Linked DNA regions of Homo sapiens. The protein of the gene in region 2 purifies or fractionates together with the protein of the main gene of each other region. This does not show direct contact. Each region holds a gene or a part of one and is shown on either strand. Other genes may lie near its edges.

Region 1 (3,500 bases), on a different chromosome or scaffold from region 2:
ATTTTTAGTAGAGACGGTGTTTCACATGTTGGCCAGACTGGTTTTGAACTCCTGACCTCAGGTGATCCACACACCCACTTGGCCTCCAAAGTGCTGGAATTACAGGCGTGAGCCACTGCACCCGGCCTCATTTGATTTTGAATGTATCCAACACAAAGAAATGATCAATGTTTGAGGTGATGGATATGCTAATTACTCTGATTTGACCACTATACATTGTATGTATGAAAACATCACTATGTACCCCATAAGTATATATAATTATTATGTGTCAATTACAAAATAATTTTTTTTTTAAATCTCCCATTTTAACAAGGTTGGTACCTGGCTTGAACAAGGCCCACATGTGGTCCTTCTGTTCCAATTCCCAACATTAGAGCCACTTTTCCAACAAAATTCTTCTGTAAATTAAATCGGCGCTGCCCAATATTAAAGCTTCCATCAATCAGAAATGCAATGTCTGCTTTACAATCTGCGAACAACCAAACCAGTCCCCTCATTAGCAGTCTCAAGAGGAGGGAGGGAAAATGCTACCTTCCCAAATGGAGATCTTGATTCTTACCTTTATTGCCAGTTTTCTTCTCGGGTGTTTTCTTTAGTCGTTTACCTGAAATAAAAGATGCACTTGGCATTAACAAAAGGAAGACAGTTACATAGCAAGAAACCCACATGGGGAGAAGCTCATAACAACAGAGTGCCATTCTTGAAAGGACTTTTTTAAAAAAATTAATTTCCTCAGGATTTTCTGGACTAGGGAAAGCAATGACCCAACAAATAAACAAATCAGTATGTAGGCCTACATATTTGATATGCCCTAATCCAGGACTTTAATACCCCAAACCCACAGGTGAGGCAGGAACTCAACATTAAATCCTAATGTTCTTAATATCTTTGACTTTAAAACTGCCATCGTCATACAAAAGGGGATCCCTGGCTATTTCTTACAATAGACACACATTCCTTTTAGTCACATGACAGTGCAGTAATTAAAGGAATTTAATGAAGCAAATGGAACTAGAAGTTCATGGTACTTTGACCAGTTCTTAGGCGTGGTTTATCAAATCTGGGAGAAAATAGGACTTTTAGAGAATTATTAGGCTGGGTGCAGTGGCTCATGCCTGTAATCCCTGAACTTTGGGAGGCTGAAGTGGGAGGACTGCCTGAGGTCAGGAGTTCAAAACCAGCCTGGGCATCATAGCTAGACCTGTCTAAAAAAATAAAAATAAAAAAAATTAAAAATCAAAAAAATTGGCTGGGTGTGGTGGCATGTGCCTGTAGTACCACCTACTCAGGAGGCCAAGGTGAGAAGATTGCTTGAGCCTAGGAGGTTAAGGCTGCAGTGAGCTATGATTGCACCACTGTACTCCAGCCTGAGCAACAGAGTGAGACCCTGTCTTTAAAATATACACATAATGAATGTTTCCATATGTAATATACCAGTAAACTTAAGGTATTTGCTTTGTTTCTCTTTAATATCAAATTTCTTTAAGAAAAGCTTCTACCAACAACACGTTTATTCATAACTTCCAAATGCTGTGCCGGGCAACTAGGAGATAGGTTTCATAGTTCATACCTGTTGGTGGATGTGCTGTGGACACTGCTTGTCCTGTGGCCTCCTGTGTACTACTTTTGCCTTCTGTTAAAATAAAAATAAGCTTATTTTTTTCCTTTTCCTTCTTTACCAAAGTATTATGAATCTAATTTAGAGCTCTCTACAATGACAAATGTAATAGGGTAATGGTGATTGTAGTTACAAACATCCTGCTGCATGCTAGTTTCAGAGAACCAAAATGCTTATCCATTATATCTTCAAAGGATCATCAAAAATGTATTTAGTAGTTTTTCAGTTCCTTGGTAAGTGTCCGGGCATTCTGACTGCAAATAATTCAAGTTTCTATTGCCATCATCTGTCAGTAAGATTGTCTTCTATTCACCCAAATTTGGCTTCAGTGGGTACTTGACCCCTCAGTCTAACCTACAGTTTACCTCTATAGGTCAGCTTTAGTCTTGATCACAGGTTTTTCCATCAAGGTTAAAGAGGCTGAGCTAAAAAAAGCAGAAAACGTTTGGGGGGTGGGAGAATATTACAGAATGAGAACAATAATTATACCTACTAGTTACTGTGAAAGAAGCAGACCATCTAGAAAGCATTTGAGACTGGATGCCATTGGCATCTACTGAGGAATAGTTTTCTCGACCAGGTAGGCTATAGACTCGTACAGGTCCCCCTGAGTTGCTGATTACTCCCCTGTAACACAAGAATAGCAGCTGAGATGCTATCCACACTTTTTCAGGGCATCCCACTGACTTATAGTGCCATGTTGTATCTATTGCTTTGATTAATCAAGAAAATAGCTCATCAGGGAAGTCATCTAAAGATTCTGCTTTATTTATTTATTTATTTGATGGCGTCTCGCTCTGTAGCCCAGGATGGAGTGCAGTGGCGCGATCTCGGCTCACTGCAACCTCCACCTCCAGGATTCAAGTGATTCTCCTGCCTCAGCCTCCCAAGTAGCTGGGATTACAGGCATGCACCACCATACCTGGCTAATTTTTGTATTTTTAGTAGAGACAGGGTTTCACCATGTTGGCTAGGTCTCGAACTCCTGACCTCAAGTGGTCCATCCGCCTCAGCCTCCCAAAGTGGTGGGATTACAGGTGTGAGCCACCACTCCCAGCTGCTGCTAGCCTTTTAAAAACTTGCTTACACAAGAACAAAATTTGCCTGGAAAAAAATGGTTTTGTGCTGTTGAACTTCTTAAGTGTTGATAAGAACACATTTGTAATATCCCATTACCCACAACTTAGAAATTCAGAGCACCAAACAATTTTCCTAAGATACTCACTTTAGCTACATGCCTTTGGACTGAATTTTTTTAGAAGTATTATACTGGCTATTCTACTACAGGATAGCATGGCACTTGCTAACAATAGTCACCTTGGGCAAGATACTTGACAACTCTCTGAGTTCAGTTTCTTCATCTGTAACTGGAGTAAAATTCTACCTACCTTGTAGAGTTGTGGTGGAAGTTAAAACAATAGGTGGCACATAGTAATAACTCAGTAATATATCACATGATTAGGAATGTTTTGGAATCATAGCAATCTAGCCATCAAGAGGTAATGCTATTTGCCTTTTGTCAGAAAGCTTTCCATGTGTATTTGGTGTTTCAAGTATATCCAGGAGAACCGTGAAAATATATCCATTTTCTGTGGCCACAATGGCAACAAAAGAAAGAATGCAGGGAGGAAAGGGATCCAGATGGGTAAAGCAGGAAAGGAAATAATCACGTCTGCATTTCTCTCCCACCCTGGTGTGTTTGGGCTTACCTGTGGACAGCAGCCCCACATATGCTCGATACAGAAGCATATACTATGTTCCCATACACAGAGAATTCCTCAAGAGGGCAGCCCCCTGGGCAGAGGACATCTGCTTTCTCTTTCCTGATGTCCAAGCCTCTGGTAAAACATGTGATAGCAATGGGAGCTGAAGAAAAAGG
Region 2 (3,500 bases):
GCAAAGCCCCAGAACTCAGCGTGGTTTTCCCTTTGATCTGTGTGGTGATAACTTGAGTCCTGGACTGCAGGCCCCATGACAGCAGGGCCTCACCAGCACTTAGCACAGTGCCTGGCACACAGTAGGTCCTCATTACTGAGATGTTGAGTGGATGCGCACATGCACGAAGGATTGAGTAAATGAATGAATGAGTCAGTCCAGGAGAAACTCCTTACCAAAGTCTTTCTGGCCTCTGTCTCCCAGCTTGTCCCCACCCCACACCTGCCCCCAGAAGAAGTGCCTGCCTCTTCTGAGCCCTTCTCCAAGCATGGCAGGCAGGCCGGACTCGTGCCAGGCCCCAGCATGTCAGGGCCCCACATGCCTTCCTGCTCCCTCAGCTCTGCTCCCTGAGGGCCTCACTCGTCTGCCACCCCTGCCACCCCTGCCACCCCTGAGCTTGCAGGAAGGCTTCTTAAATAAATGCAATGTGTGAACTGAAGGGACACGTGGATTAGTTCAATCAGGCATAAGCAAAACACAAATACCTGCCGCCTCTCGTCTGGTGTATGGAGGCCGAGTCTGAGCCCAGGGTCTTTAGGGGAGTCCTGGGTGCCCACCTTTGAGACTGAGGGTGTTCTGAGCCTTTGGCATTTCCCCAAGGGGCCTTGGTCTGGGACCAGGATGGACCTCCCACTGCAGTGACTAGCAGACACCCCATTAGGCTTGGGTGATGACCCCAAGGGGCAATCGTGCGAAATCAGGTGTCAGGAAGGGCTCCAGCTTGGGCGTGGTGAGAGAAGGAGCAGTGGCTCCCAGCACATGCTGCCAGGCTCCTCCCATCAGGGTGGATGGAATTCGCCAAGGGAGCCCATCTTTACAGCACCCCCCAGGCTGGCACTGGGGCACCATGCCTGCCCCTGAAAAGCCTTTTGATATGTCCCTGACGGAGCCTGCAGCCCCCTCCCACCTTTGCAGCAGAAAGACCCACAAGTCGGCCTGGACTAATCCCTTTTCTAAACAAAGAAAGAGGCCCTGCCTGGCCCACCATACTCTCTTCCTGTTTGCTTTGGATTCAGACCATAGGCCCAGCTGGCTGGAATCTTTACTCTTCTGGACAAGGCCTCTGGTCTTCCAAGTTGGTGCAGCAGGTAGCCCAAAGTTGGCTCTATAATGAGAGGTCCCTGCTCTAGGCACCAGGCCAACCCAGGCTGGGGGCACAGAGACAGCCATGCTCTGCAGCCCCCACCTTCAGGAACACACAAAAGGGCTTCCCTCGTCCAGTCCCCTGCCACAGCCCAGGCCTGGCCACCTCCACACCCCATCGGGCAGTGGCGGCTATGCTACCCTCCCCTGTCACCCAACCCCACCAGCACACGTCAGCAGAGGGCTCTGCCTAAGAGTGTGGGTGGGACTCTCCCATTCAAACCTGGTGCCCAACCTGCAGAGTGAAACCTTAACTCTGGCTTGGGCCTTAATACCTTCTGTGAACTTGACCCTCTGGCCTGTCCTCTTTCTACTGCCCACTGTGGCTCCAGCTGCCAGCGTCTCCCCAGATCATCGGGGCTTTTTCATACCTCTGTGACTTTGCTCATTCTGTTCCCACTGCCAGGAATGCCTTTCCTCTCCCTCTTGTCAAACTCCTACTCATCCTTCAAAACCCAACTCAATGTCACTGCCTTATCATGCACACCAGCCCCCACTCCCCTCTGCGCTTCCCCAGTCTCCAGTTCCCACCTCTATCACAGCACTTAGGAAAATGCCACTGAGGCTGAGCGCGGTGGCTCATGCCTGTAATCCCAGCACTTTAGGAGGCTGAGGTGGGCAGATCACGAGGTCAGGAGTTGGAGACCAGCCTGGCCAACATGGTGAAACCTCGTCTCTAATAAAAATACAAAAAATTAGCTGGGCATGGTAGCAGGTGCCCGTAATCCCAGCTACTCAGGAGGCTGAGGCAGGAGAATCGCTTGAACTCGGGAGGCAGAGGTTGCAGTGAGCCGAGATTGTGCCACTGTACTCCAGCCTGGGGGACGGTGTAAGACTCTGTCTCAAAAAATAAATAAATAAATAAATAAATAAATAAAAATACAAAATTAGCTGGACGTGGTGGCGCACGCCTGTAGTCCCAGCTACTTGGGGGGCTGAGGCGGAAGAATCGCTCGAACCCAAGAGGTGGAGGTTGCAGTGGGCGGAGATCGTGCCACTACACTCCAGTCTGGACGACAACAGAACGAGACTCTGTTTCAAAAAAGAAAAAAAAAAAAGAAAAAGAAAAATGCTACCAGTGTGTTCAAAAGCCTGCTGCTGCACCCAAGCACCTCAAAGGAAGGCCTGGTGGCATCGTATGCCCCTCCATGCCCAGCACAAGGCAGGAGCCCAATACATGTTGGCCAAATGAATGACAACACCCACAGTCCTTGCCGTGACCTACAGGGCCTGTGTGATCCAGCCCCCAGTGATTCTCTGGCCTCATCTCAAACGCTCTCCCCTGTCACTTCTGTGCTCCACCCCAGTGGCCTCTTTCAGTTCAAATCCAACCTGCTTTTCCCCGCTTCATTCTCCCTTCCTCCCTACACACAAGCTGATCCTTGGGCCTGGAAAGCTTCCTGCCTTTGCTTCATCCACTCCCCACTTGCCCTGGAGACACAAGTCAGTGGTGCTGCCCCCAGGCAGCCCTCCAAGTGCCTCCATGAGGGTAGCACCAGGTGTGCCGTATCCTCTACACCTGGCGTGCAGTGGGAGGGCAACACGTGCTTGTGGAATGGGGCATCAGTGCAAGAATGAGAGACAGCAGTTAAGGATGGAACTTCAGAGCCTTGATCCTCGGGACAGGTTCCACCCTCTCTACCCGACATTCCTTCCTGGGCTTCTGGGCTGTGCACAAACCACCTTCGTGATCCACCTTTGTGATTATTTACTTCGTATTTTTCTTTAAATCAATTCACTTTCTTAGCCTCCTTCTGAGCGATAAAATCATGGTTGGATGTGTTAATTTATATTAACAATTCATGACTATTGGTTTAAAAATTGTTCCTGGGCCGGGCGTGTTGGCTCATGCTTGTAATCCCTGCACTTCGGGAGGCTGAGGCGGACGGATCACGAGGTCAGCAGATCGAGACCATCCTGGCTAACACGGTGAAACCTCATCTCTACTAAAAATACAAAAAATTAGCCGGGCGTGGTGGTGGGCGCCTGTAATCCCAACTACTCGGGAGGCTGAGGCAGGAGAATGGCATGAACCCGGGAGGCGGAGGTTGCAGTGGGCCGAAATCGTGCCACTGCACTCCAGCCTGGGCGACAGAGTGAGACTCCATCTCAAGTAAAAAAAAAAAAAAAAAGAAAAAAAGAAAAAATTGTTCCTCTAGGTAGCTCCTAAAAGGATCCTGTCCAGTTGCACCCGCTTTGGGAACTGCTGCTCCACCCTGTATGATGTTGGGGTTGCTGGCCCTGCGGGTTGTCTTTGGTGCAGGCTCTTTCTGCCAGTGAGCAAAATGCATGTGTTCCTTTCGCTGTGAATTTCTTGA

The links. The genes of interacting proteins can lie anywhere in the genome.
Region 1: the proteins of ANPEP (region 2) and COCH purify together in Homo sapiens (affinity purification with mass spectrometry, with the first as the bait; one large-scale study listed by BioGRID). This does not show direct contact.

Annotation. Positions count from the first base shown.
Region 1 is NC_000014.9:30,877,559-30,881,058, reverse strand, and holds part of COCH (cochlin isoform b precursor), read right to left. Parts: intron 3,488-3,500; coding exon 3,331-3,487; intron 2,249-3,330; coding exon 2,115-2,248; intron 1,637-2,114; coding exon 1,574-1,636; intron 608-1,573; coding exon 563-607; intron 473-562; coding exon 325-472; intron 1-324. UniProt on the Homo sapiens protein: Plays a role in the control of cell shape and motility in the trabecular meshwork.
Region 2 is NC_000015.10:89,808,353-89,811,852, forward strand, and holds part of ANPEP (aminopeptidase N precursor), read right to left. Parts: intron 1-3,500. UniProt on the Homo sapiens protein: Broad specificity aminopeptidase which plays a role in the final digestion of peptides generated from hydrolysis of proteins by gastric and pancreatic proteases.